Homo sapiens: one gene and its partners. The protein of the gene in region 2 interacts with the protein of the main gene of each other region in a biochemical or structural test. Each region holds a gene or a part of one and is shown on either strand. Other genes may lie near its edges. The genes, in order: DHX9, EIF2AK2, PRKRA and TARBP2.

Region 1 (7,019 bases), on a different chromosome or scaffold from region 2:
TAATAAAAATATATGCAATATATAATAAACAAAAAACAAAGTCCAGCAATATGGATCATTCAGACTTTCTTTTTTTTTGAGACAGAGTCTTGCTCTGTTGCCCTCGCTGGAGTGCAGTGGCGTGATAGCTCATTGCAACCTCCAACTCCCAGGTTCAAGTGATTCTCCTGCCTCAGCCTCCAGAATAGCTGGGACTACAGGTGTGCGCTACCACACGGGGCTAATTTTTTTGGATTTTTCGTAGAGACAGGTTTCACCATGTTGTCCAGGCTGATCTTGAACTTCCTGAGCCCAAGTGATGTGCCGCACCCAGCCAGATCATCCAGACTTTAAAATAATGAATTTAAGAGACCCAGAATACTGGCATTTTCTAGGTTTTCAAGAATATGATGGCTGAGCCTACTGGCTGTCCATTAAGCTCTATTCCATTTTTGCCCAGTGCTTACCACTAGTTTTGAATCAATATACAGAGTATGTGAAAGGGTACTCAAGCTTCACTTAGATTCTGATTCCATAGTGGTGGTGTGCCTAGTGGTAGACATGGCTCAAATTCCTAATGCATTTGCTTCTACTGGTATCAATTTAAGATTAAGTATATAGTATATAATTAAGTTAGATATAATTAGTATATAATTAAGTTAGATTAGCAGCTGAATTCCATCATATTGTAATTCTAAGAATTCAGTTTGGAGTTCACATCTGAAAATCCATACCAGTCATCTACAAGCACAATCTGCCCATCAGATTGGACTTTCTTGGAGGCAAAGAGAAGCAACTGCAGGGGGGTGACTAAAGTCATGCCTTTAGCAGAGATGGCTCGAGTTCGAATCTGCAAATGGAGAAAGAGACAATACAAAATGGTTGACATTCCAACTTCCAAATACCGCTATATACTGTGCTTTGAAAATCAAAATTCATGTTCCTAATGATTGTAAAGACAATTTCAACTTTCAATGTAAACTTTTCTAGTCTTTTCTTACCTTTTCACCAAATACAAAGAAGGGAGATGGGTACTTCATGTCTTGGCTACTAAAAGGACAATTAACAGATGATTTGTGGATAAGTGCATTACGCCCTTCAGTGGTGAGAATCTTCCTCTTTTCCTTATGATAGCATACATTGGGGTACACACCAAAGGCCAGGAGGGAGATAACAACATCCAAATTATTATCTGGTCCAGTGTTAGTAAACACTTGTGTCAACAAACAATCTGTTAAGAGGAGCACAGTGAAAACAAAAATCAGATAACTGGCTGATCTTCACATTACATGCAAACTATTTAAGATAATTCAGAGAACTGACTCTTCCTCACTCTTTTCACATAACCTGTCTGTAAAACTTTCTCTTCTCAGAATCCTTACACCCAGATTAAGTTCAAGGAGTAATGTTACTGAGTTTCCACAATAAGAAAACGAAAACGTCTCTATTCTCTTATAGACTCAACCATAAATAAGCTTGGGGTGATTACTTTTTTTTTTTTTTTTTGAGACGAGTCTCGCTCTGTCGCCCAGGCTGGAGTGCAGTGGCGCCATCTCTGCTCACTGCAAGCTCTGCCTCCCGGGTTCATGCCATTCTCCTGCCTCAGCCTCCCAAGTAGCTGGGACTACAGGCACCCGCCACCACGCCCGGCTAATTTTTTGTAGTTTTAGTAGAGACGGGTTTCACCGTGTTAGCCAGGATGGTCTCGATCTCCTGACCTCGTGATCCACCTGACTCGGCCTCCCAAAGCGCTGGGATTACAGGTGTGAGCCACTGCGCCCGGCCGGGGTGATTACTTTTTAAAGTCCCCCAATCAACCATCTACTCTGAGAATAAGAGCTTGACTGATAGGACCACAAAGTATTTATCTGCTACTCTTAAATAGCTGTTAGTTGTAGAGAAGATGGAGATAATCTAAGAGGACACCTACTGGAATGAAGGCTGACGTTTTTACCCAGTCTACACTTTGAGTACTTAGCTACTGACTGGAAAGCATGACAGTCAACCGCTGAAAGCACAGACATATTTTGTTCTAGACAAACGAGTTCTAGTCTTATAGCCTCCTAATTGGATGAATTAAAGACAATTTATACCTTGGTGCCTGTTTCATTACCTGTAAAATTCATCTCAAGATTCTAGCACATGAAGTTTTCCCTTTCTTATAATTTTGAGGAAAAACTAAAATTTCGGCTGGCTTATGACAGAAGAGAACCACTCACTACTTTGTTTAGTTATTCCAATTACAGCCTTTAAAAATTTACCATCTTGCCCAACTACCTTCTGTCTCTCAACAGTCTTATTTCTGGTTATGCATTCCAGTTCTCAATGTTTTAGGAAGTAATTCTATATTTTAACCTAGTTGGAAAAGAAAAGTACTACAGCTCATCAAGAAACATGGGTTGGTTTTTTTCTATGTTAGATGTCATAAAGTCCTTTAATCATCTGTACACCGAAAGTATAAATTAAAGTCATTTAAAATTTAATGTGGTAGAATTTACTTCAAGTCTAAATGCTAATAAATTACTTTGCAAACCACTATAAGGTTATCAGCAAAGTACTCATTCTGGGAACTAGACCAGTGTTCACGAGAACTAAGAAATAGTCGGGAATATATAAAAATCATAGGGTCTAAAATTTGAAACTAAAATACACTTTGCTGTCAATTTGCATGTACTATATAAATGTCACTTTAAAGATATCTTAAGAATGGAAGAAGTCTTACCTTCTGGAAACCCAGAATTAATCAAAATCTCTTTGAGCTGAACTTTGGCTTCCCAAGTCATTCTTAGTGTAGCCATATTAAGTCTTTTGTGCTCACAAAAACGTATCTCTGCTTCTTCTCCACCCATTCTAAAATAAATTGGCATGAGAAATCATTCTCTAAGACCAGAGAACTAAATACAAATGAGAAACTACAGACAGCTCACCCAAATCTTACTCATACCTAGCATCATCCCAGGCTTGGAATACTGATAAAAGGGCTACGTGATCAGAAAATCTGTTTCCAGCAAAATTTCGATGGATATAGCCCAGCCGCTTTCCTTCATTGATGAAAGGCTCTGGAAAGCAGGTAGCAGCAGCAATGGTACAGATAGCATCTCCCACGCTGAAATACACAAAGACAGTTAAATCCAGACTAGATCACAATGTTGTTGCCAGCAGCTCAGGTAGGACTGTCGACTGTGGGTTGCAGTCTTTATGGCTATGATTCTACTTTTATTTGCAATGAAACTGGCTTAACAAAGAACTTTATAGCTGCTCTCTTCAGAATCAGAAAGAAAAAAATGCTCTGATGCTCTAATGGCCACATATTTATCATAAATTATGACCAAGTATATTTTTCCTTTTATATTCTCTCTTCCCCATCATACCAAATCTCTTAATCTTCAACATTTTCTGATAAAATAAACCTCTTTTCCTGACACCGCTCTTTCAAGACCAACTATTAATAACAAGGGACCCTCCCACCCTGGCCTCCCAAAGTGCTAGGATTCAAGGTGTGAGCCACATTGCCTGGCCTGCTTGCTTTTAACTTTTGAGAAATCAGTGCCCTTTTCCCCATATTGGGCCCAGATATCCACCTACTGGAACTGTTCATTTTTTTAGTGTTACACTGCTCTCAATATCTAGGTATGTTACTTCCCTGAAGAACATTTAGGATTTTTTTTTTGTCTATCTGAGCCAATACTGCTTTTACAGGGAGGAGAAGATTCTGAAATTATTCTGCCACTTAACGAAGAGAAATAAAACAAAGCACTTACTAGAAAATACACCCCATTATCATCATTTTGCCAAAACGAGGCTCAATGGGGAGTTTAGCCAGGATTCGTCCCAAAGGAGTCAACTCATCATTGGCATCTAATGCATCAAGCTCTGTGGGGAGATAGTTCTTTGTGAGCAGAAACAAATGAACACTAATTTTAGGCAGACAAAACATTACTCTAAATTAAGGTTAAGACAGTTTAGAGTTCCTCTTTTGTCAAGCCAATCGCTAATACCATGTCTACGGCCAACAATTCTCTGTACTCAAAAATAGAACAAAATCAAAATCTGGAGCACCCAACATAAAGGTACTACAACTAAATCCTGTAGGTTATAAAAACAAATACAATTCATATGAAGTCTATAAATACAGTATTAACTATAATAGCAGCGTAAGTTTCTACATGCCATAAGAAGTCTGATACCCAGCTGTTAATGTTTTAAAAAAAATAAAATCTAGAGAAAATTCTGAAGTTACATAGTAGATAAATGCTAGATTCAAAATTCAAATTCAGATCTAGCTCCAATGCCCTTAATTTTCACTGTACCTCTAACAAGTTTAGCAAGAAAAAATAAATGTTCCAGGCTGGACACAGTGGCTCCTGCCTGTAATCCCAGCACTTTGGGAGGCTGAGGTGAGTGGATCACTTGAGGTCGGGAGTTTCAGAAGAGCCTGGCCAACATGGTGAAACCCTGTCTTAGTAAAATATAAAAATTAGCCGGGTGTGGTGGTGTATGCCTGTAGTCTCAGCTACTCGGGAGGCTGAGGCAGAAGAATGGCTTGAACCTGGGAGGTGGGGGTTGCAGTGAGCTGAGATCACGCCACTGCACTCCAGCCTGGGCAATGGAGCGAGATTCCGTCTCAAAAAAACAAAAAAAGTTGTAAGAGATTCATATGAAATACTGTGGGTATCATGAGTAAGTTATGTTCTGATCTTTAGTACATAGTTAAGAGATGCCTTTTTAAGTTTTCTTTTCTTTTTTAAAGACTCACATTGTCCCTTTCTTCCTTCTCATTGCTCATTAGAACAGTGACTATACTAACTATCTAAGGTAAGACTGGAGGCCTTACTATTATTATCACAGCCCTGTTGACTACATCTTCATCATCTTGATTCATTTGTAAGTGTTATCTGCCAGAACAAGACAGATGGTATGATTAATATCTGCGTCAAGTAGGTTTGTATTTGTAAGTACCTCTAAGAGTGTGTTCTGCTTCAATCACAGCATCCAAAGGGGGAGGTTCAATTGCTTTGGCCAGAAATTGGCCAATTCCTCCTAGACGCAGAAGTTTTATGCTAAGAGCAATTTCATGCAATGGTGTTCGGAACATCTCTGGTGTCATGTGGGTTTCAAGTCTAAGAGAAAATAAGCATAAAATAACCATCCTCCTTGTGTATACACAGATGTTAATAAACTTTTTGCAGCAAGGTAATCAGGGATACAGAGCTGCCTTTTCCTCATCCTTTTATTTTACAATTACCATCGGACCTTTTATCGTTCACTATACACACTGTTGACAAAATTTAATCTGGTTGCATAGTGGTTTCTGACTTATCCTCACAGCTTGATAGCCTTTTAGGCTGAGAAGAAAAATGAAAAAATTATCCAAAATCGCGAATGTTATTAGCTCCACCCATGGTCTCTTCAGGCCTTGCCTGTTGACAAACATGGGTTAAAAACGACAACAAGACTTTTTGTAGGATGATAACTCATACTAACATTTCTCTACAACCTCCCACCTTCCTAGTTCATGTAATTTTAGTGCCACTAGAAAGGCTCTTATAGATGTATCTTTAAAATCCAAAACTTTTTGACTTCTGACATGACACTTAAAGGAAATGCTCATTAGAGCGTTTTGGATTTCATATTTTCAGATTAGGGATGCCCGACTGGTAAATACAATGCAAATATTACCAAGAAAAAAAATCCAAAACCACTTCTGGTCCCAAGCATTTCAGTTTTAAAAGAGATATCTGACCTGTATAAATTAACAACAGCAAACACTTATTGGGAGATCATGATGTGCCATACACTGTTCAAAGTATTTTACATTATTAAATCATTTAATACTTATACCAACCCTATGGGTTAGGCATTATTTATATTCTTTTTACAACTGAGGAAACAAGAGAGGTTAAGTAACTTAATATTTTATAGAATGAGGGAAATGCAGGCCTAAGGAGTAACCACTTAGTGTTATACAATGTATTAGGCACAAATAATATTAAAATCTAGGTCTCTATATTTCTAAATCTGGCTTATTCTCTAAATGATTTGTGATGAAGATTCTTACGAAACATTTACACCTGATTCCAACATGGCTGGCAAGACTTAGATCAGCTTATATTGGCAGGTTTACATAACTGCACACATCTGTCCCTACAGAGAACAGAACAAAAATCCCTTACTAAAGGTCAAGAATGGGTCTTACCTCTCAAAACGAGCTCGGCTGCACAGGTGAAAGCAGAATCCAGGCCGTACTCGGCCAGCTCGCCCTTTCCGTTGCTCAAGGTTTGTTTTTGATGCCCATACGGTAGCATAGTTGGTCATATTGTTGTGAGCAGTGAAGAGTTTCACTTTCTGCCTACATAGGAAAAAGTGGTTAATTCTAAGACTCATGTGTATTATCAATAACTATTATATATCCACTAAGTAGTGAATGCTTTCCACTATGTAGTTAAAGCCATACCTACTTGTGATGTCTATTCATGAATGGCACAAGTAAGAATCAGCAATCTGACTGCAAACTCCTAGTTGTCAACCTACTAAAAGGCAATGTAACATCCACTTGCCACTTATCAGCTGAACTGCCTTGGCCAAACTTTGCATGCCATTATCTACCTTATAGTTTTTTTGGTAAACATTAAATAAATTAACAAATGCAAAGCATTTAAATGGAATATGGCACATACACAAAAGAAAGTAATTATTTAAGTCATCTCTATTCCAAAGTTTAGTGTAACTTTTAGGATATCTGTATCTAGTGATGCCTGTGTGGTCCATTTGAACCCCCAAGTAACCTCAGATTCCTTCAATGTTACATACAGAGACAGCTGCCACTAAATGACTGGGATTGGCACAGAATGCTATTCATCATTTCCTAAAATGGATGTTGGCAGCAAATTGTTTTCATTGTCAGGACAGACTAAGGAATTATAAAGAGAAGTCATGGGGTACAAGTTGGCCAGATATAACCAAGTTTCAACTTTTTTGTCCTTTCAATTTATCAATTACCATGTAATTCCTGTATCTACACAGAATGTCTCCTGGTATAT
Region 2 (7,950 bases):
ACTCATCTTAGTGTCAAAGCAGCCATAGACAATATATAGATGAATGAATGTGGTTGTGCACTAATAAAGCATTATTTACAAAAACAGGCAGCAGCCCAGTTTTGGCCCAGATCTATTCTAGACAATGAAATAATTAGCGAATAAAACAGTCAAAAATCCCTGTCCATGTGACTTTACATGTCAGAGGAAGGAGAAAACAAAGACAATAAATCAATAAGTTGTATTGTATAATAGAAGGCTGTAAGTGCCATGGAGGGGAAATAGAATAGAATGAGGGGGATAGGGAGTGACAACAGGGTGACAGTAGTGATTGGAACTTAAATAGTGTAGTCAGGGGGCTTCGTGAGCAAGTGACGTTTCAACAAGATCTGTGAGTTTTGCAGATATCTGAAGGATGAGGTTCCAGGCAAAAGGAAGAGCAAGTACAGAGGCACTGAGACAGTAGTATACCTGGCATTCTTGAAAAACCACAAGGAGGACAATGTAACTAGAGGAGAATGAAAGAGGGGCAGAGAAACAAGAGACGAGGTTAAAGTGGCAACCAGGGTGCAGGAAATATAGTGTCTTGTAAGCCCTTGATGATTCTGGGCTTGACTTTTTTCTTTCTTTCTTTCTTTCTTTCTTTCTTTCTTTCTTTCTTTCTTTCTTTCTTTCTTTCTTTCTTTTCTTTCTCTTTCTTTCTTTTTTTTTTTTTTTTTTTTTGAGACAGTCTCTCTCTGTCGCCCAGGCTGGAGTGCAGTGGCATGATCTCAGCTCACTGCAACCTATGCCTCCCAGGTTCAAGCAATTCTCCTGCCTCAGCCTCTGGAGTAGCTGGAACTATAGGCATGCACCACCATGCCCAGCTAATTTTTGTATTTTCAGTAGAGACAAGGTTTTGCCATGTTGGCTAGGCTGGTCTCGAACTCCTGGCGTCCAGTGATCCACCCACCTCGGCCTCCCAAAGTGGTGGAATTACAGCCGTGAGCCACCACGCCCGGCCTTCTTTCTGTATTCTGCATGATGAAAGGGACAAGGCAGATCTCTGGGGCCTCTTTTATAAGAGCACCAGTTCCACCACCCAAAGGCCACACCTCCTAATACCATCACATTGGTGATTCGCTTTTAACTTATGAGTTTTAGGGAGGACACAAACATTCAGACCATAGCGATGATTTTATAATAATGTGCATGTGGGGACTATTGACAAGAAGAGTTTATAAGTAAGCAAGACAAATTACTAAAGCAGAAACATCTGAGGAAAAGAGCCACAAGAGATATGGTACAACATAAATATGGACCACTCTACAATTTCCAAAAGCAGGAATAACAGTTATTATTTTTCCTCTGCTAGTAAAAAGAGAATTAAGAATAATTGATACATACGATTCTTCTATCTGTGTCTGATTCGTTGCTTTAGCATTACACATTTTGATCTAAAAGTCACTGTATTAAAAGAGATAGACTTATGGGATTGACTATAGGTCAATAACCATACTGATATTCACAAAGAGTTACGTAGTAAGGCCTGAGAAGCCCATGTGGATAAACTCACACATATCCTCCATTCCTGCTGTCACAGCCTCTTTATTTGTTGAAACAAGCACAGGGATAGCTGGGGAAAAGGCTAACAGAAGTCTTCTTGCTCAACTGCTTCTCAAAAGCCTCTTTAGAAGTGGTTGCCTTTGGTGAACATTCAAAAGGGAGCCCAATATGCACACTCTGCCCATTCGAAGTGGTTCAAGCACATCATTTCCCTAGACCTCATCATCAGCCCTCTGATATCATTCCTTCCAACTCTCTGAACATCAGCTGCATTGCCAGCCACTGGCTCTGTATAAGCCACTGAAGGAGGGGACTTTGGATCTTCTTGGGGTCCATGGTTAGGAAGTAAGTGACTAGGTTGCATAAGATGAATCTACTCCAATATTCCTGACTCCCTAAGTATTTTTGATTTCTTCATCTGCATTACTTGGCATTACATTTACATTTAGTGTGAGCTGCCACTGAGCTGATATTATAGTAAACCAACTGGGCAAACTGGCTTAGCGCTCCCACTGCTAGAGGCAGTACATCAACTTTCTTTCTTTTTTTTTTTTTTTTCTTGCTCTGTTGCCAGGCTGGAGTGCAGTGGCACGATCTTGGCTCATTGCAACCCCGACTCCCTGGTTCAAGCGATTCTCCTGCCTCAGCCTCCCAAGTAGCTGGGATTACAGGCACATGCCACCACGCCCAGCTAATTTTTGTATTTTTAGTAGAGACGTGGTTTCACCATGTTGGCCAGGATGGTCTCAATCTCCTGACCTCATGATCCGCCCACCTCGGCCTCCCAAAGTGCTGGGATTACAAGCATGAGCCACCGCGCTCAGCCTCAACTTTCAGCTTTCTTCACGTCATCTTTAGACTCATTGCCATGTCTATTTCTTGCTTTCTGTTGCTCTTTTGTTGTGTAAAGCATCACCCCTCCATCAGATCTTGTCCATATCCTCTTGGGGCGCATTAGCATCTGATTCTAGTTCTAGGAGTGAAGGCACAGGTAGAGATAGGATATTTGGAGAATCAGCACCTCCTTGCAGGGTGACTGTTTCATGCTTTTTAATGTAGGCTGTACCAGCCTTATCAGACAATGGTGGGAAGCCTGTGGAGACACAGCAGAATTTAGGAGGGCAGTGGCACTTGGATTCATTCAAATCCACCCAAATTCCCAGGGCTTCTTTCTTTCACAATCAATGCCCTCAGTGTTCACAGAAGAGACCTGATGAGGCTGCAAATGAAAATTTTTGTTGTAATTCTAGGCTGGGCGCGGTGGATCACGCCTGTAATCTCAGTACTTTGGAAGGCCGAGGTGGGGGAATCACTTGAGGTTAGGAGTTCCAAACCAGGCTGGCCAATATGGTGAAACCCCTTCTCTACTAAAAATACAAAAATTAGCTAGGTGCGGTGGCACACGCCTGTAATCCCAGTTACTTGGCAGGCTGAGGCAGGGAAATTGCTTGAGCCCGGGAGCCAGAGGTTGTAGTGAGCCAAGATTGTGCCACTGCACTCCAGCCTCGGCAACACAGCAAGACTCTGTCTCAAAACAATTATATTGTAATTCTGGTGCCTGCAGCACCAAGCTTTGCAGCTGAGAGCCCAGACAGTAGGGAATTGGGCTCCTCAGGGAGTCCAATATGCTCACACTTTACCCATTCCAAGAGGTTCACCCATATCATATCATTCCCCTGGACCTCATCACCAACCCTCTGATATCATTCCTTCCAAATCTTTCCCCAGCAGAGAAGGCAGATTTTTACATCACCCCTGAGGCTCCCTGAAATAGGAGGGTTTTCTGGTACAGTCATAAAAGCGTGTGTCCTCTGATCATGCTTAAGCTTGCCATTTTTCATTCTTTAAGCTCTCTTGGGCAGTTCAGGGGCTCAAAAAGTCAGAAAAACTTGTCCTTGCTACTGCCATTGCTGCTGCCACAGCCATCCCACACCCACAAAGCTGACAAATGGACACACAGCACTGTCAGAGTTTTCTTGTCACCTGGAAATGCCACAAAAAGATGGCTCTGCCTCATGTCTACCTTCTAAACCTCCCGCCAGTGCTTTACATATAGGGGACTTAAGCTATGCCCAGGACCAGAGCTACAAGGAAAGTGTAGATTTTAGTTGTTGATACCCTGCAATGTGGGGTTGTTGGGGGATGGAGAAGGGAGGCTGGAGAGGATGCCTGCCTAGGTGTAATTTTTTTTTTTTTTTTTTGAATTGGAGTCCCACTCTGTCACCCAGGCTGGAGTGTAGTGGCATGATCTCAGCTCACTACAATCTCTGCCTCCCAGGTTCAAGCAATTCTCCCTGCCTCAGCCTCTGGAGTAGCTGGGATTACAGGTGCCTGCCACCACGCCCAGCTAATTTTTGTGTTTTTTAGTAGAGACGGGGTTTTGCCATGTTGGCCAGGCTGGTCCTGAACTCCTGACCTCAGGTGATCCGCCCGTCTCAGCCTCCCAAATTTCTGGGATTACAGGCATGAGCCACCGCGCCGGCCTAGGCATAATATTTAATGTATATTTGAGGTCTGTCTTTGGACCACCTTCCTCTCTTATCCCAGCTAAGATACTGAGAGTACAAACTCCTGGTTATAATTCTAACTCCGCTGCTTACTACCTGTGTTAATCCAAATTCTCTGTGCCTCAATACTCATTAGTCACTGTGCCAATGAACTCTGGAACTCTGTGTGACTCTGGGAGTGTGTCGCAGTCCATCAGGTGAGTAGAATTTCTATAAATCGAGGACTACTGGTGTTGGACTATGGTAGGAAGCTCCCTGGGGTACTGTAGGAAGCAGGTGTCTCTATTTAGCAGCAGGACTGGCCCACAGGTGCTTTTACAGCGGCTGGCAAGTGTCTGCTCATGAATGAATGGATGGGTGGGAGCGGAGTGAAGGAGATTACGCCCCCAGGCCTCTGATCCCCAGGCTTGTAAAGGTGAGGGGGCCGCGGTGTGGCAAGAGGGAAAGAGTGCTTTGGTGTTTACAGGCCCCGACTTGAACTGAATCCTGGCTTTGCCACTTACGAGCGGCAGGACCCCTGGGTGAGTTCATTTACTCAGTTTCCTCTATTGTAGAATGGAGCTGGTAAGATCCATCTTCCCAACCCCACCCCAAATATTTGTGTTGAGAGTAAGTGGAACCCTTGATTCGAGAACCTAGTGCGGCCAGCGGACTAGGCCAGCGGAGAACCCTAGGAGCCCCGGGGGCGGGGGATGGGGGTGCAGGGTCCTGGCCGTGCAGGGGCAGCACGTGGGTGCCAAGCCCGCCTGCCGGTGCCAAGCCCGCCCGCCGGTGCCAAGCCCGCCCGCCAGTGCCTCTCGCGCGCACTCTGGATCCAGCGCCAATTTACCCCAATCCCGTAGCAGACGAGGGCTTGTGCGAGAGGGGGCCGGGCGGCTGCAGGGAAGGCGGAGTCCAAGGGGAAAACGAAACTGAGAACCAGCTCTCCCGAAGCCGCGGGTCTCCGGCCGGCGGCGGCGGCGGCGGCGGCGGCGGCGCAGGTGAGCAGGGCAGGGGGCAGCCGAGGGAGCGCGGGGAGCGGGGGCCGGGGGGCCACGTACGAGGGGCTGCAGGCCCAGCCGGGGCGGGACTCGCCAATCCTGCGTCCCCAGCTCAGGACGCGGACGCTGATCCGAAGCCCCTGGCCCCGGCTGGGTCAGCACTGGGAGAGCAGGCCCAGGTCCGCAGCCCGGGTGTGGGGCCCTCCCCAAATCCAGGGAAAGGATCGTGGAGCGGGGTGGGGACTGAAAGCCATTTCCTTCCCGTGAAGAATTTTTATCAGTGCAAGTAACAAATATTTCCCAGGCAGCAGTTGTGGGGCGGGGTCTAGTGGAAGACGAATAGGCCTAGTGGCTTGACACATGGAAAATACGGAGGCCTGAAATACTCATAGACTGGCTGAACAATCTTTGGCTAAAAATCTCTTCCGTGGAGAGTTGCAGTAGTTTCCCAATTGCCTGGCCGCAGTTCCTGTTCCCACTCCGTATCCTCACCCCTGAACCTCCACCCCCTACCTCTTCTCCACACCTCAGCATCTGGAATGTTCCTTTAAGTAAGAACCAGACTCTCCCCTGCTCCGACCTTCCCCGTAGCTTTCCTGTCTCATCAGAATCCTATAAACATTTATTAAGGCTCACAGGCAAGGCCCCTCGCACCCCCTACTCCGGCCACGCTGGCTTCCTTGCTGTTCCTGGTGCACAGCCAAGCATCCTCCAGCCTCTAGGCCTTTGCACTGCTTGTTTCTTCTTTCTGGAAAGCTTCTTCCCCAGATAACTGCATGGGGAAATCCCTCCCTTATCCTGCACTGCTTCCCATGCCAGCTTATCAGAGCAGCCTTCCTCAAACAACCTGCCTATACAAGAAACCCCGCTCTGCCCTTGCTGTTCCCCCTTCCACTACTTCGGTTGTCAACATAGTAGTTATCACCTGGTGACATTTTCTTTCTTTTCTTTTCTTTTTTTTTTTTTTTGAGACAGATTCTCACTCTGTCGCCAGGCTGGAATGCAGTGGCACGATCTGGGCTCACTGCAACCTCTGCCTCTCAGGTTCAAGCGATTTTCCTTCCTCAGCCTCCCAGGTAGCTGGGACTACAGGTGCCCGCCAGCACAGCCAACTAATTTTTTTATTTTTAGTAGAGACAGGGTTTCACCGTGTTGGCCAGGCTGTATGTAGTCTGCTGGAAAGGAAGTGGAGGCATAGCCAAAATAATTTCTGGGCATTAGTAAGATGGACAAATATTATTTTTTAGTGATTATGATGGAGGTTTCTTCCAGATGAGTGAATAAGATGTAGAATCTGCTCCCCAAAGAGCTCACTAATTAGTTTAAAAAGCAGTCAGGGCTGTGTTGAAGGTTGGGCAAGGTGGAGTGGCAAGCCCATACTAGCTGACCCTCCAGCATCAAAGAAGGCTGTGTTGATCCTGATAGATGAGTGGATATTGGTGGGTACAGAGAGAATGCAGATATTGCACTATAAATGTAGAGAAAAGCAGGTGACAAGTCCTGGATGGGGTATCTGGAGATATTTTGGTACTCACTCATTCATTATTGAGCCTGGTCCCTTACCTGTAGTAATTCATGCTCTATTTTGGAAAATAGTTAAATAAGCAATTTTAATAAAGGGGATGAGCACTGTGGAAGAGCCTGTGAAGGAGTGTCTGGGATTTTGAGCTGAAATCTGTAGGAAGTAGAAATTGACCAGGCCAAGACAGCAGAAGGAATAGAGTCAAGGGCATTTTAGGAGGGAGCAGGTTGGACAGAGGCAGTTGGGAGTTCAGGAGAGAGTCCATGGTGGAAGCGTGCTTTTGAGAACCATCATTGTGTCCGTGGAATTTAAAGCCACAAACCTGGAGGTGATCACCAGGGGAGTGAGTCCAAGTAGAAAAGAGCAAGTCTAAGGACCGGGCCCAGTGATGCTAGAATATCTAGAAAAGAGGAAGTTAGAACCATAGAAAAGGTTAAAAAAAAAAAAATAGAAGAAAAGAAGTTGAAGATGAACCAGGAAAGGAGACAGAAAAGGAGTAGCTTGTCAGAACAGAAGAAAACCAGGCCCAGGTGCCATGGCTCATGCCTGTAATCGCAGCACTTTGGGAGGCCAAGGTGGGTGGATCACCTGAGGTCAGGAGTTTGAGACCAGCCTGGCCAACATGGGGAAACCCCGTCTCTACTAAAAATATAAAAAATTAGCCGGGCGTGGTGGTGGGCGCCTGTAATCCCAGCTACTCGGAATGCTGAGGCAGGAGAATCGCTTGAACCCGGGAGGCAGAGGTTGCAGCGAGCCGAGATGCCACCATCACACTCCAGCCTGGGCAACAAGAGCGAAACTCTGTCTCAAAAGAAGAAAACTAGGAGAGTGGGTGTCTTAAAAGTCCAAGCTAAGACAGGGAGAGGAGGGCGAAGAGGATGCGCAACCCCATCAAATGCTGGTTGTAAGTCAAGTAGAGAAGGACTAAGAACTGACTACTGGATTTAGTGATAGGGAAGCCATTGGTAACCTCGACAAAAACAATTTCAGTGGCTTGTGGAGACTGCATGATTGAATTGATGTTTTTTTGTTTGTTTGTTTTGTTTTTGTTTTTTTTTTTGAGACGGAGTTTCGCTCTTGTTGCCCAGGCTGGAGTGCAATGGCACGATCTCAGCTCACCGCAACCTCCACCTCCTGGGTTCAAGCGATTCTCCTTCCTCAGCATCCCGAGTAGCTGGGATTACAGGCATGTGCCACCACCCCGGCTAATTTTGTATTTTTAGTAGAGATGGGGTTTCTCCATGTTGGTCAGGCTGGTCTTGAAGTCCCGACCTCAGGTGATCTGCCCGCCTTGGCCTCCCAAAGTGCTGGGATTACAGGTGTGAGCCACCGCGCCTGGCCACTGAATTGATGTTTTAAAAAGATCATGATGTGGCTGTATTAAAAAAGAAAACAGATAATAACAAGTGATGGTGAG
Region 3 (7,711 bases), about 140 Mb from region 2:
TACACCCAAAAGAAATGTAATAATTTGTCTCTCCTCTCTATTTTCTTAAAACATGCTTATGCAGAATGTTTCACTCTGTCTGTTGAAAGTCTGTTGAAGGGGACTCTATTTGTTGCAGACAGATTGCTGTATTATTTAAATCTAATAATTAAGCAAATGTGTGTAGAGCCAAAGTAATTTTGTGGAACAATTAAAAGTTTTGTTTAAGCCAAGTGGTTTTTTTTTTTTTTTAGCTGGGCAAATCATTTTAATGTGTAACAGTAGGCCAACTGGGGAGGACAAGACCCCAAGCCCCAGCCTTTCTCCTGATGCCCTGGGACCTGTGTGCCTGGGCCAGTCCCATGCCTGCCCCAAGCCCTGAGGCCCACAAGTCCCAGAGAAGAGTGGGAAAGAAAGTTGGGTGGTTGCAGCTCAGCCCCAAGAGTTCAGGGAGGGAAAAACAGGGGCTAGTTGAATTTAGCCTTGGAAAAATCCATCTCCGGATGCTGATCCATGAACTTCTTCAGAATCTCCTGTTTCTTCTGTTCGTCTGAGGTTGGCAGCCCCATGGACTTCTGTTACTGGTCATAGATTGTCTTTTCCACCATGATGTGAGTCTCACTGTCCAGGTCTGACAGCTTGGAATTCTCAGGGTTAATCTTCTTGGTATTGATCTCAGGGTCACTGGACACCAAGCGGCTCCACCACTCCATCTTCTTGATCTTCTCCAGATGCACAGTCACCACCTTGCCGTCCTCAATGAGCCACGAGCTCTCCTCCGCCTTCACTTCGTTGTAGAGCTCCCCATCGATGATCGCTGGCTGCCCCTTGAGCCCCACCTGGAGGTGCCGCCGTTGGATGCCACCACCACGTCCTTCCCTTTCAGCTGGAAGTCCACACAGAAAGGGACCGCCAGGTCCAGCTCCGACAGGGTCTTGGTCCAGCGGTAATCAGGCAGGTCTGCCCTGTTGCCTAGGTTGGGCTTCAGTTTTCCTTTGTCCTTCTCATCTTCCTCCTCCTCATCTTCCTCAGTCTTCTGCTTCCCTGGGGAGTCAAGGCTGCCATTCTTGATCTGGGCCTCATGATTCTCTGCATCCTATTTCTGGTCAATCTCTAGCTGCAGCCTCTCTGCCTCTTCATCAGTTAGCTCCTTGATCTGGGGCCCTGAGGTCTCTGACTTCAGCCAAGTGATTTTTGATATCTATCCTTATTCAAAGTTTGGATATACTACCAATGTATTTCAAACATATCTAGCAAATTACACTAGTAAAATACAACCTCAATGTTTTAAGCATTCTTTGTAATGAAGTTTATATACCTAAAGTATTTAATGAAAACACTGAAATATATTAGGATTATTATACTGACCGTGTAGTAATTTCTTTGAGTAATGTTGATACTTCCACTTCATGTTTGGTTACTATACCAAATGAAGCTTTCACTGCAATGGAATCTGATCCAGCAACGTTAATCCCAACGTCATTTACAATATGGTTACCTCGCCTTCCATAGAGTGAAACATCTGATTCATCTTCATAATTCAGTAATTGATAAGATGAAATACCTTTATAAGAAGAAACTCAGTATTTTTTAAACATCTTTATCTTATGTAGATTATATATAGTAACATGTTAAATTAACAATTGAAGACTCAAATACCCAAATGTTAGAGAAAGGCAACATGACTCACCAAGACTTAAAGTAGTAATTCAATTAATCTTACAACAAAAAGAAACACATAGCCAGAATTCTTAAAAGGAACTCAAATTTTCTATTCAGCCAACAGAACTTCTTAAGCATCAAGATCCACCGGGCAATTAAAAGAAAAAATAAGCGTTTATAAGTAGTAACTCATCAAAATATCAGCTTATTATATAACCTACCCTTCAATACATTTCAGTTTACCAATTGTAATAATTGAATTGTAAAAAATAAATACAAATTATTTTCATCTCATTTGACCATGTAACATAGGTAAGCCCAAATAATATCCCATTTTATAGATGAAGAAATATGTCATATTCTAAGTTGATTTGGTTAAAACAATTTATAAAATAATTGATAGATTTGAAAATTATTTGACCAATAAGAGATTTGATATTATACAAACTTTTGGCATTGTTAATCTTAATAATGTTATTACACTAACATCATAATAAAAGTTGCTTTAATCATTGAAAATGTGTATTACTAACATAAGTAGCATATATGACCTATGTTTAGGTTGCCAATAATACAGATGAATGAGTTGGCACTCCCAAACATTTAAACTTACCAGCTGAAATTTCTCTGTCTCCTAGGAGAATATCTTTCAGTGTAAAAGGTGTTGAAGTAAATTTATATCTAGGAAACAGAAAGCATCGCTTCTTTTTTACCACCAGACTTAGAGGTTGATATTTGTCAGCTTCACTGAGGCTTGGAACAGGAACTAATCTCCCTCCATCTCCAACTTGCTTGACAAAGCTCTTGGTAGCAGCAGCAAACATATTAAAATCAAAACGTCATCAACTGCAACCCCCAGATAAATCCATTTTTAAAGAGGAAAATCAGGCACAAAATTAAGCATTGCTTGTTTTTAAATATAATTATACATCTTAAAAATACAAAGCATGGTTTCACCAAGTAGTTTACCACTGTATAATTCCCTGCCTCTGCTCATGTGCTCAGGTAATGAATTATAGATCAACGGTGTAAAATGATATGCTAAGAGCATGTTTAACTTGGAATGGCAGGCTATAGCACTAAAATATACACAGAAAACTAATAACGTAAAAATATGACCAATGTCTATGATAAGGATCACAGTAGATAGTGATTTGCCACTGGCAATGGGCCAATTTTAAGGGAAGCATATAGTGCTGTGGGAAGCAATGCAATTTAGGCACTAACGATAGTCCCGGATACAATCTACAGTGGACCTAGTCCAAAGGGAATTCCTTCACAAGTCCACCACCGGAATTTTGGCAACACCAAAGTGCTGTTTTGAATCCTCATGGCATACAGCTCATTGATTGAGCATTTCATTCATTTTCCATCTTATATGCTTACAAAACTGTGTTTAATATTAAATATAAATTCACAGATATAAACAATTATATGCAAATCTTTATTTAAAAAATAAAGCCACATTACATATAAGTAACTATATAAACTATTACCTAGTGGTTTCTTACTCTGAAGTTGGGCACACAGACTCTCTCTCTTTGAAATGGAGTCCTGCTGCATCTTTTTGTTTCATTATTATCCCAGCTACTTAACCTTTAACAAGAGCTATATAAAGTTCTGGCCTGTTTTTAAGTAATTTTGTGGCAAAAAATGAATTTTACCTGAGTGCTGAAATGTTTTGCCATAGGTGTTATGCGGAGTTCATATATTGTGAAATACTGACTATGTAGCCCTTCCAATAAGATATCCATTAAAACAGTGATGGATAGTAATCTATATACATACATATATAGACGGAGAGGAAGAGAGAATAGGCTCTAATTAAAGCATCAGATGATATAATTTGATTAGATTCTGAACATCTTTCACTTGTTTCAAGCATCCAGGGCTTACATGCTAACAAAACAACAAATCGCTTTTTTTTTTTTTTTTTTTTTTGAGAGGGAGTCTGACTCTGTCGCCCAGGCTGGAGTGCAGTGGCGCGATCTCGGCTCACTGCAACATTTGCCTCCCGGGTTCAAGCGATTCTCCTGCTTTAGCCTCCCGAGTAGCTGGGATTACAGGCGCATGCCACCACGCCCGGCTAATTTTTGTATTTTTAGTAGAGACAGGGTTTCACCATGTTGGCCAGGCTGGTCTCGAACTGCTTACTTCAGGCGATCCGCCAGCCTCGGCCTCCTAAAGTGCTGGGATTACAGGCGTGAGCCACCGCGCCCGCCCATAAATCACTTTTAATAATATCCTTTCGTACGAATAGCATTGTGCAAGCAATCTTCCATAACACCGAGTAAGCACAGGGGAGCATTTCTGCTAGTGCCTAGCAAGCCCCTGGAGAAGCGACACGTCATCTAATGGCCCACCAAAGGTGCTGCATCCCAGGCAAACGCCATTACAACCGACTACCCAGGTCCCCGGAAAGGCCTTCGTTTACTCCTAACGTGTTTTGCTGGGATGCACTGACCCAGCGTTCCATCTCGCGACGAAAGCCCAGAAGACAAAGGAGCCCGCCCGGCGGGAGAGGAGCGGGTGTTTGGACGTCCCCGCGTGTTCCTAAACACAGGGCTCGGGGACCCGAAGAGCGCACCGCAGCCCCCTGGAGCGTATATATCCGGGGTCTCAAGCTTCAGGACCAGGCCCGGGAGACTCCCTGGAATTCTGCCTTCGTAATTTTAGAATCTTTTTCTTAAAGTGACCCAGCCCCCAATCCGTCCTCCCCACAAAGGCTTAACTTTAGGCCTCAACGACCCTAGACCCACGCCGGACAATCCCTCTAATCCCTCTCTCCCGGCAAGAAACGGCCTCCTGCTAAGGACAAAGAACTGCGGCCTAGGGGCCAGTTACTACAGGCTGGTCAGGGCCGGCAGGGGCGGGCGCGGAGAACCCCCGGGAGCCCAATGCCTGTGCCCACGCGGGAGCGGGGCGGAGCCGGGCGGGAAGGGGGCGGACCCTGGAAGGGACAGGGGCGGAGTTGGGCCGGGACGGAGGCCCGCAGAGGAGCAGCGAGGGGGCGTAGCCGGAGCTACGGCACCAAGGCTCCGCCCCCACCCTGCCTGCCCCCTCGCTGGAGCAACGCAAGCAGGAGGCGGGGGAGTCGGAGGAGGTGGCGGCGCTGGAGCTCCTCCCGGGGACCAGCGACCCGGGGAGCGAGCACGTCGCTCCGCACCGCTCTTCCTCCAGCCGCTGAGCCGTCCCTTCTCGCCATGTCCCAGAGCAGGCACCGCGCCGAGGCCCCGCCGCTGGAGCGCGAGGACAGTGGGACCTTCAGGTCAGCGTGCGGGCAGTCAGGGCCCCAGGGCCGGGAGCGTTGGGCGGCAGGGCCGGGGCGCGGGGAGCCGGCCCTCCAGAGGCATTCTGGGTAAAGCCGTGCCCGGCGCCCACGCCTCCGCGGCTGTGGGTGCTCGGCCCCGCCCTCTCGGCGGCGAGGGTTGGGGTCTGCGGCCGGGCCCCGCCCCTCTCGTGGTCCCTGGCGGCGCGCGGGGCGGGCGGAGGTGACGCTCGGTCGGCGCGCCCGGGAAGGGATCGTCAGGTTTTCCCTGAGAGGCTGCGGCGCTGCTGCCAGCCCTGTTCTGTTGAGAATCTCTCCTACCCGCATTCAAGTGCTCTCTCTAAAGACCTCGCTCACCCCGCCTGCTCCTGCGGAGTGACTGCCGCAGCGGGGCCGGAAGACAGGTGCGCCCCAGCCTCGCCAGCTCTGGCCCTGGCCTCCGGGGAACTCGGCGCCTCCCTCGTCACCGTCGGTGGCGGTTAAAACTGGCCTCTACGCTTCTGCTTCAATCTCCAATTTGGCATGCAAAGCACACCTTTTTGTGGTTTTTGCAGTTTGGGGAAGATGATAACAGCTAAGCCAGGGAAAACACCGATTCAGGTATTACACGAATACGGCATGAAGACCAAGAACATCCCAGTTTATGAATGTGAAAGATCTGATGTGCAAATACACGTGCCCACTTTCACCTTCAGAGTAACCGTTGGTGACATAACCTGCACAGGTCTGTATACACAGTTAACCTGGATGACCGAGTGGGTTGGCAGTCAATACTTGGTGTTGCTTTTCAGTTCGGAAAAGTTCTCTTTTTGCCAGACAGCTGTGAGGAACAGGCTCTGAAACTGAGACCTCTCATCTCAGGTCGTTAGGGCTTTTCAGCTGCATCTGATTCTCTTCCTAATTTTCTCTTCCCCACATACCAAGGAAGCTTAGAAACTAAAAAGTTACCCAGCCGGATGGCTGGATCCTGCATGGCTCTTCTCATACCCTAGGATCCTCCTAGGGTTCTTCTTAGAATTAGAGGGAAGCAGGAAAGGTTCTTGGAGCAGTCATAGCTGGGTCAGTAGGTACTGTGAAGTTTCATAGATTATAGCGGATGCCAGGAGGCATGACCCCAGAATTTTCTGAGCGTCTCTCCTCTCTGTATGGACTCATTTGGCACTTTAGGTCCATTGTGCTACTTTTGATTCTGTATCCAAACAAAATGAGGAAGGGGAGAAGGTCCTCATATATTACATAATAACTTCTAGTTTTTGAAACTGAACAGATATTTTGTATATTATCCACTTTTTAAACAAGAAGAAACAGGTTCAGAGAGATTATAAGTAACATGCGTATAGCAATGAAGTCACAAAGCAATGAAATTTTAAAGTTCATGCTTTCTTTTGGTCTGTGAGCTTGAGCAAATGATAACTAAAGTTGCTCATTTGTAAATGTGGACATTATTTTTCTTATGTATCTATTTAATTGCAAACACAGAAAACATTGGATGCTAAATTTAATTTGGAAGAATGCCAAGAAAAAAATTTAGTAGGAAGGCTCAAGTTCTACCATCTGGAAAATCTGAAGACAGCATTTGTTTGTGTCCCTGGAAGTTTGGAGTCTTTTATTTTAATTGATGCCACTTTAAGAAAAGTTTAAAACTTTTTGTGTGAGGCAGTTAGATTGTAGGTGCTGGCCGGAAGGGTCCCCATGGGAACCATAGAGTCAACACTGCATTACTTACTTTAGCTAGTCTATTTCTAGATAGGAAGAATTCAAGAAAAGGGAGGGTTTTTCCCTCTCAATGTGTTTTAGACCCCAAATTAACAACCTATGGCAACCGTTCTGCCTACGCCCTCTTCTCACACTACCATGGCTTCCTGTGCAAGCTTATCTGCCTCCATGGCTTCTGATACTGTCTAAAGACTAATATTCTGAAATGTCTGTCTACATCCCAAGCCCAGTTACAGAATAGTGTATCAGTCTGTGCTTGCTGAGCATCTTTGCCTGGATGACACAGAGGCCCCTCAAGCCTCTCATTGTCCCAAACTGAATCCATCTTTTCCCTCAAACCCATTCTTCTTGCATTCCCTTTCTATGTAAAGGCTCCACAATCACCTAGTTCAGTAGAAATGTAGGCTTTTGTCTTCCTAACTACTTCCCGTCTTTCTCCCTCTTGTCCAGTCTGTTATTAAACTCTATCCATTGGCGTTTAATAATCCACTAACTATCCATTGAATCTGTCGGCTTCTCTCTTCTGGCCATTGCTACTGCCTAGGCCACCATCATCTCTCACTTGGATTGTAGCTGCAGTCTTGTAGCTACACGTTTACCTTCTAGTCTTGTGATGTCCTTTTGTCACATTACAACCAGTGTTCATTCTTTTTTTTTTGAGACAGGGTCTCACTCTGTCACCCAGGCTAGAGTGCAGTGGCATGATCTTGGCTCACTGCAACCTCCGCTACAGCCTGCACTTAGGCTTGTTGTAACATATCCCATTCCATACTTCAGGTGCCTATTAACAGACAAAAATCCCACACTACTCTGTTGGCTCTTGAGGGCAGGGACCCTGTATGCTATATCCCTAATACCTGTGTTAGCAGATAAATATATGGTTTCTGTGTCTTCTTACACTTGAGGGCCACACTTGAAGGCCACACTTGAAACTTATTCCATGAGGGTATGGGAGTTTGAACTTAAAAGGAAAAAGATGGAATTTATCATTTGCCATTGTGATTGCTTACTGAAATTAGACATCAGTCTTATCCCCAGTCCCAACTTAGCTACCCATGCAGAAGATACAGACCGTCCAGAAGATAC
Region 4 (7,372 bases), on a different chromosome or scaffold from region 2:
CTGGCCAGTTGGGTGACCTGGCCTGAGACTTTTCAACAAACCTCAGTTTCTTCATTGCTAAACGGGGACAGTGGTACCTATGTCCCACAGTGGCAATGCAGTACATAATGTGGTGGGTAAGAACACAGGTTCTGGGTTACACAGACCTGGGTTCAAATCCTACCTCTTGCCACATACTAACTTTTTTACTTTAAACAAATTACTTAAGTTTCAGTTTTCTCCTCCATCAGAGATGATGATAACACTATCTCACTTGGTCTTGTTACGGGCATGATTAAGAAAATCAAAATAAAGTTCTTGGCCCAGGACCTGGCACACAGGAAGCTCTCTATAAGCATTAGCCATATGGAAAGTGCCTAACACACACTTGTAAGTTTTTTATGAATGTGATTCCCTTCCCTTCTTTCCCTTGTTCTCTCTCTCAAAGCAAGTGCCAGTAGGGAGGGTATGGGTGGAAAGGGAGGTGGAGAAACAAGAGGGAAAAAAAAGACCAAAGAATGAAGAAACCAAAGGGCAAGGGCTCTATCCTGAATGATCTTTAGCCTCCTCTGGAATCTGGTCACTGTCACAGTCTCCTCACCTTCTCCACGCACACATATGACCCCAGTCCTTCTGGGAGCCAATGAACCAGACAGACCAGTCTCTGTGGCCAGGCCCTCATGAAGCCCCTATGTCCCCTGCTGGCATCATCTCAACAGTATCCTCCTTCTTCCCAGCATCACCTCAGTCAACAGTGTGAGTGAATGCATGAGTGGCTGGCGTGAGGGGCAGACATTTCCACCTCACTGGAAGAAGCATGGCAGCTGGGGGTCCCAGGGCTTGACTGGTGTAGGGCTGAGGACCTGAATGTAGGGGTGATCTCCAGTCCACCCTAGCAAGGACTTCTTACAGGGTTGATTCCTTCTTTCTCTCCAGATCCAGGCAGGGGAGAGGGAGGACTGTGCATTACGAGAGTCCGGGCTGTGAGTGGTAGAACCAAGAGTCCTCTTCCTAGAAAAGCCTGATCCTACCACAGTGTCACCACGAGGGGAAAAGCAATTGGTTTTTAGAAGGGTTCTGCCCTCTTCAGCTATAAGGAAGCCTAGGAAATCCTGAGCCATGTCTAACTTCTTGCCTCCTCTGTCCATAACTGGGATGGATATTTAGCTGGTGTCTCCATGTTGAGAGCTGGGGTTTTCCTAACATTACCCCAGTTGACAATGGGAGTGAGTGGATGAATGATACGCTTGAGGGGACACACTTTTTTTCACCTGTAAGTGTGAGATAGGAGGGAGTGGGGCCCTAAAGCTCAGAGAAACTTCAGTGTCTGGACAGGAAGGCTCAGGGGGCACTTGAGTCCTATCCTTCCTAAATCCTTTCTGTTAGCCTTAGCTTGGTAGGACCCTCTGGCTGAAACTCAGAGCTCCTAGAGCAATGGAGTCCACCTTGAGAACTGCAAGGGAAATGTGTTTAGAGGGATGCACTGACTGTGGCTTGAGACGACTCTGGGTGGGGTGAGGAGACCTCATGTGCACTCCCTTCTGATTGGAGGCCACTCACCTACGCTCCTCTGAAAAAGGCAGCAGATGAGCATCTACAAGGTAGGACTCCTCCCTTAATTCTAAGGGACACCTCACTGTTTCCTCCCACTGTCTACAGAGCCTTGACTCTTCCCTCCTCTCAGTCAAGGCCTTGGTTACCAGCAAGTCTCAACTCTTGTTTATTTTTAAGCCAATGAGTTTGAGGAGTGTTTGTGGGAAAGGGAGGAGGTTTTTGGAGGGCCTGACTGGGGGAGATGGGTTAGGGGAGCCAGAGGAGATGGAGAGAAAGAGGAGGGAGAAACCCACACGTGAATGGGGGAGGGGAGGATGCAACAGCTGGATGGAGGTGAATGCCACAGCTGGAGGTGAATGCCACAGCTGGAGGGGATTAGGAGGATCACAGCTTGAAGGGGAGGGGGACCAACGCCTGGGCATGCAGGAACAGGTGCTCTCTGACTAATCTTCAGGTCCAGCCTGCTGTGTGTGTGTGTGTGTGTGTGTGTGTGTGTGTGTGTGTGTGTGTGTGTGTGTGTGTGTGTGTGTGTGTGTGTGTGTGTGTGTGTGTGTGTGTGTGGAGATGGTGGGTATATCAGTCCTTGCCCTTCCTTTCCTTCCCTAGAGGGGGCCAAAACTCTCCCTCCTCCTTCCCTCTCTCTCTTCCTGAGGATGAGTGGGAGGAGATGTTCTCTTGCCCTCTGTCCTTTAAGTCTGTCCCCCAATCATCCTCCACCCCACCCCAATACGGTCCTTTCCAGCTCTGGAGGCCCTTCGTCTCCAAGCTGGGCCGCGGCATCCCTCCGCTCCATTCCCTTCCTTCCCAGCCCCACAGGCGTCGGGTCCAGGTCCCCAGTTCCTCCATCCCCACAGCCTCAGCATCCCCACGCCATCACCCCGCACCAGGCCACATCTGCATCCCGACCCTCCCTCCACGCCCGGATCCCAGGACCCAGACCCATCCCTGCCCCCCACCCCCCCACAACTCGGCCAGGCTCTCACCTCGGGGGCTCCGCGGCCGCAGCACAAAAGGCGGCGCTGCTGCAGCTCCGCTCCGGATGCTGCTCCCGCCTCCTCCTCCTTCTCCTCCTCCTTCCCTCCTCCCCCCGCTGCCCTCCACCGGACCCGGGGCGCTGTCACAGGCGATGCTCGTGCGGTGTCCGGATGCACGGGTGTCAGCTTCAGCTTTCTGCCCCCACCCCCCGACCCCTAGCCCCGTCCCTGCTCGGCTTGAACTCCCGCTCCTTCCAGGGCCCCCGCCCCTGGCCCCCCGGGACGGACACGCCCTGAGCGGGGGATGCTGCGATGGAGCCGCCGGCCTCTTAAAGGAGCCCGCTGCTGCCATCCGGCGCGCTCCAGGCTCGTACCTGGCCCGCCTGGGCCCCGCGCCTCCCTGCTGGCGGTGTCCTATGGAGGTCCCACCTCAGGCCTCAGGCTGATTCCACAGGAACCCCCTATGACCCGTCTTATAGACTCCTTTCTACATCGGAGAGAGCAGCCCCTCAGTTGGGATCCCTAGCGCTCTGGCATTGCTCCCCCTATCATACCGATCTTGCCAGCTCTCCTTCCCTTGATTGTCACCACTCACTCCAATTTCACCCACTTGGAATTCACTCGGCTCTAGGCCCCATCCTCCTCCAGTGTTCCTGGATGACCCCTCATTATCATTTCAAGATTCCTCTGGACCTCCAACCCCGGCTCAGAGTAAGACATCTTTCTTGACCCCTTCTCAGAACACTCATTAGAACCTTTTTTTTTTTTAATGTGGTCTCTCCCTTTCTCTCTCCAAGGTCACAAGATTTCCCTCAGCCCAGTGGTTGTGCAACTTTGGGGGAGGAGGCAATGGGGCTCTAGGACTAAACAATGCGCGTCTGCTCAACACCCAGATCAGTTGATTAATCTTAGGCGGCCAAAATTCACTTTTGCTCTCTTCAGCTGAGAGACCCAAGACTCATGGAAGAGGGAACAAGACCACCAAGGTGCCTAGTCCTTCTAATCCTGTCGTCCCACATTACAGCCTGATTATCAGGCCCCAGAGGTTTCCTCGCCAGTTAAAGAGAGGTTCACTAGAGCGGTTCTAAAAAGGTTTCACAAAAGAAGCAACACCTGAAGGGAGGTGAAGGACGACCTAGGAAAAGGAAGCAAGTTCTGTGTCACGGAGGCCCAAGGGCAAGGGGCTTAGGCTGTGGGTTGAGGGGACTGTCTGAGACGGACTTAAACCTGCACCAGCTCCAGAGCCCTGCGGAAACAGAGATCGGTCCCCTCCGGCGTCTAGGTAAGGCCCACCCTCCCAGACCGCAAAGAGCCAGGATCCGACGGCAGCCTCTCCGGACCAATCACAACCTTCCTTCATCAAGGAGGCGGGGTCGGGGGGGGCTGACTTTTCCTTGTCTCCGCCCCTTTAGTCGAAGTAACCAATCTCAGTGCACCTAGGGGAAGTAATCGCAATGGGAGTAACCAATGACGCCATGAAGCTTCTCGTGCGTGCTTGACCCTGCCTCTCCAGCTGCGACACAGATGGCGCGCGGGCTCTTGGGTTCTGTAGTTTTCTCGCGATCCAAAAGGCTCCGTGCCCAAGTGAGTCCTTACCGCCTCCCTACCCAGCGGCTTCCCCTCCGCTAGTACGCATGTCCACAGCTTCACGGACCGGGAGAGAGGGGGCGCGGAAGGAAGGAGGCGGGACGGTATTACAAACAAAAAAATACGGCCTTCTCGAGAAGCGACGGCGGAGGGCCCGCTCCTCCCAGAAGGCGGTGCAGCCTGCCCGGGCGAGCCACGCACGCAGAGGGTTGTGGGGCGGATAGCTCCCCTCCAGATGGAGGCTCACGAAGTAGGGTGGGCGGGGGACTCCATATCCCAGCGTGCCCCGCGGCGGGCCCTACCGGCCGCGACTCCGGGCTTGGCCCCGGCCCTAGCTCGTCGGCTGTGTATTGGGGCGCGTGGAGGCTGCAGTCACGGTGGCGCCCGCGGGGACGGAGGAGGGAATGAGTGAAGAGGAGCAAGGCTCCGGCACTACCACGGGCTGCGGGCTGCCTAGGTGAGCCGTCTCGTACCGATTCCTTCAGGGCGAAAAGCGTGGGGCCGTGCGGAGGGAGTAGCGGCGCGGCCCCAGCATGCACCTGGCCTGAGGGTTGTTCCCGGCAAGCACTGGGGCAGTGGGCAGTGGTTCCCGGCGTGCACCGGGGCAGTGGCTGCTGCCTCCAGCTCTAAATAGTTTGGGGTTGGCCCGGTTCCCAGACTGCACTGGAACACTGGGCTTTATGCCCCCACATTCAGTGCATTTGGTGGGTACTGGGTTCCTGGCTTGCACTGTGTCAGGGGGTATGCACTTTCAACCTGCATTGGGGCACAGGATCGTGCCCACCTTAACTGAGGCAGGAGCAATGCATTCTTCCCCCCTTGCTTTGGGGTAGTGGGCCCTACTTTTCCAGCCTGCACCTCCACTTGGAACCCAGCCAATGGATGCTAGACTGTCTGGGGTTCCTTGGACCCTATGTCCCCCATAATGTGCCTAGGTCTGGTATGGAAGTGCTTGGCTAGGTGGGTGCAGAGAGGGGAGGTGTGATGTGGGTCTGTGCCCCTTCCCCCAGTATAGAGCAAATGCTGGCCGCCAACCCAGGCAAGACCCCGATCAGCCTTCTGCAGGAGTATGGGACCAGAATAGGGAAGACGCCTGTGTACGACCTTCTCAAAGCCGAGGGCCAAGCCCACCAGCCTAATTTCACCTTCCGGGTCACCGTTGGCGACACCAGCTGCACTGGTGAGGAAGGCTTGGGCAGCCTGGCTGGGGTGTGCATTTGCAGGTCCCCATGGCTTTGTTTCTTGGAGTCTCTCTCTTCACAGTCCTTTTCTCCAAGGCCAGTGAGGGAAGGAGAGATTTCAGGGGAAAAGCTACTGACTGGATTGGGAGAACAGGGCTGTAAGAAGGTGGGTAGGACGTGGGAGAGTTAGAGGAGCGAGCAGGACTCCCACAGTGATCTGGCAGATCCCCATCACCCTAGAGGAAAAGTAAGAGAAGATAACTGAAATCCCAGTGGAGTATTTGGGGGAGTGAGTGCCTGGCGTGCTGGGCTCTGTTCCCGGTGCTTAACCAAATTCCCGTTTAATTTTAAACCTCAGTCTAACCAATGATTGTAGGTGGTAGTATCCGCCCCCCCGACTCCTCCCCCCGCCCGCCCATGTTGAATATGAGGAAACTGAGTGTTTGAGATAGTAAATGGCTGGTGCATGGTCACATGCCTAGTATGTGGCAGAGTGGGGCTTTTACTCCAGAGCCTACCCTCTCTTATTCCAGCTCTCTGTATTTATTGAGGGAAAAGAAAGTGCTTTGCAAAGGAAATTAAAGCATTTGCGCTCAGAAGTCCACCCAAGGCGTTTGAGCTCAGAAGTCCTGCTTGGCATGGCTTAATTCTGGAAGCTAACGGAAAGATAAGGGCTCTTCCTTCCAGCAATTAGTGAAACACTTCCAGTCTTCAGCAGGGGGAGGTTGGTCAGAAGGGGCTTGATTGATTCCCTCTGGCTACGAGGAGAGAGGCTGTGGGATGCTGGTTTCTTTCCCGTCCTTTCAGTGACCTCCAGTATTGCCCATGCCCCCTCTCTCAGGTCAGGGCCCCAGCAAGAAGGCAGCCAAGCACAAGGCAGCTGAGGTGGCCCTCAAACACCTCAAAGGGGGGAGCATGCTGGAGCCGGCCCTGGAGGACAGCAGGTGAGGGAGGAACCGAGGCATCCCAGAAGCCCTTCAAGGAACCCAGGCCCTGCACCACCCACTCTGCCCCGAGGCCTGGCCAGGTGACACTTAGCCACCCTGACCTGGCCTCTTCCTGAGAGTCCCTCTGGACCTGAACAGGGTTTTCCAGGGCTTCTGCTGCTATGAAGAATTCTTGGGGTGGAGGGGTTGGTTAGCCCCATAGAGGGGTTGTGGCAGTAGGTTGGGGCCTGGGTTAGGGAGGGAGAGGGGTAGAGGCTTGAGGCTAAAGGGAGTTACTCCCCAACATACCTCCTTGTTCTAGCAAGATGTCCTTCCTTCACGCGCAGGTTGGAGTTTGTTGCTCCTCTGGTTCTTGGGTACAAAGATACCCTCTTCTCTGAGACTCTCTTTTCTCAGTCTTTTCGCCGGTGTTTGGCAGCAAAGGATCCGAGGAGGAAGCTGTTGGTTGAGCCTCCCTGATTCTTTGGCTCAATTTGGAAGTTCTCTTAGGGGATTGGGAGGTCAGGAGGACGTGGGTCCCCCACCCCTCTCTTCCCCCTATACATGGGTGTGAATCAAAGGCCCCCTTCCCCTCGGGAAGTTCTTTTTCTCCCCTAGACTCTTCACTGCCTGAGGACATTCCGGTTTTTACTGCTGCAGCAGCTGCTACCCCAGTTCCATCTGTAGTCCTAACCAGGTATCTGTGTCCCCTGACTGCCTGAGGTGGGTGGAGGAAGGGGTTCTGGTTTTTGGTCCCTCAGTCCTTGGACCCAAGCTGGTCAGGCATGAGGAAGTCTGAGAATAAACAGAATGGAATAGTTGGGAACCAGAACTTGAAGAAATCACAGCAGCTGGTAAGCTCTTGGGACAAGAGGTCATTTGTGATTTTCAGACAGCCTTATGAATGATGTCCGACCATGTTTAAGGGTCTTGCAGGCCCCATTTTCTTCTGGGTTGACCACATGTCAGTTCTGTGTTTGAGGCCCATCAGGCACTTCTGGGACTGGAAATACAGCTCTTCTCCCACTGTCCTGGCTTAGATGATACCCAAGTGTTCCAGAATGGAAATGGGCTGGGGCCTGGAGAAGGCCTCCCTTGAGTGGGAGGGGGAAGGAAGCCGGCTAGAGCAGGAGGAGCAGGCTAGATGTGTGGACAGACAGCTCCCCACCCG

What was found.
Region 1: the proteins of EIF2AK2 (region 2) and DHX9 form a complex in vitro, tested with the Homo sapiens proteins (2 studies listed by BioGRID, with this or other methods).
Region 3: the proteins of EIF2AK2 (region 2) and PRKRA form a complex in vitro, tested with the Homo sapiens proteins (3 studies listed by BioGRID and IntAct, with this or other methods).
Region 4: the proteins of EIF2AK2 (region 2) and TARBP2 form a complex in vitro, tested with the Homo sapiens proteins (2 studies listed by BioGRID, with this or other methods).

Annotation. Positions count from the first base shown.
Region 1 is NC_000001.11:182,877,330-182,884,348, reverse strand, and holds part of DHX9 (ATP-dependent RNA helicase A), read right to left. Parts: intron 6,329-7,019; coding exon 6,176-6,328; intron 5,100-6,175; coding exon 4,939-5,099; intron 3,853-4,938; coding exon 3,741-3,852; intron 3,086-3,740; coding exon 2,924-3,085; intron 2,830-2,923; coding exon 2,702-2,829; intron 1,211-2,701; coding exon 981-1,210; intron 830-980; coding exon 714-829; intron 1-713. UniProt on the Homo sapiens protein: Multifunctional ATP-dependent nucleic acid helicase that unwinds DNA and RNA in a 3' to 5' direction and that plays important roles in many processes, such as DNA replication, transcriptional activation, post-transcriptional RNA regulation, mRNA translation and RNA-mediated gene silencing.
Region 2 is NC_000002.12:37,153,969-37,161,918, reverse strand, and holds the start of EIF2AK2 (interferon-induced, double-stranded RNA-activated protein kinase), read left to right. Parts: upstream 1-4,938; 5' UTR 4,939-5,011; intron 5,012-7,950.
Region 3 is NC_000002.12:178,448,164-178,455,874, reverse strand, and holds the start of PRKRA (interferon-inducible double-stranded RNA-dependent protein kinase activator A), read left to right. Parts: upstream 1-4,699; 5' UTR 4,700-4,844; coding exon 4,845-4,909; intron 4,910-5,117; exon of another isoform or gene 5,118-5,431; coding exon of another isoform or gene 5,432-5,463; coding exon 5,464-5,633; intron 5,634-7,711. Other genes in the region: PJVK (pejvakin), read right to left, coding at 1,348-1,543, 2,255-2,444, 3,306-3,431. UniProt on the Homo sapiens protein: Activates EIF2AK2/PKR in the absence of double-stranded RNA (dsRNA), leading to phosphorylation of EIF2S1/EFI2-alpha and inhibition of translation and induction of apoptosis.
Region 4 is NC_000012.12:53,496,911-53,504,282, forward strand, and holds the start of TARBP2 (RISC-loading complex subunit TARBP2), read left to right. Parts: upstream 1-4,372; 5' UTR 4,373-4,498; coding exon 4,499-4,551; exon of another isoform or gene 4,552-4,629; intron 4,630-4,675; exon of another isoform or gene 4,676-4,798; intron 4,799-5,104; coding exon 5,105-5,274; intron 5,275-6,116; coding exon 6,117-6,219; exon of another isoform or gene 6,220-6,302; intron 6,303-6,802; coding exon 6,803-6,898; intron 6,899-7,372. UniProt on the Homo sapiens protein: Required for formation of the RNA induced silencing complex (RISC). Component of the RISC loading complex (RLC), also known as the micro-RNA (miRNA) loading complex (miRLC), which is composed of DICER1, AGO2 and TARBP2.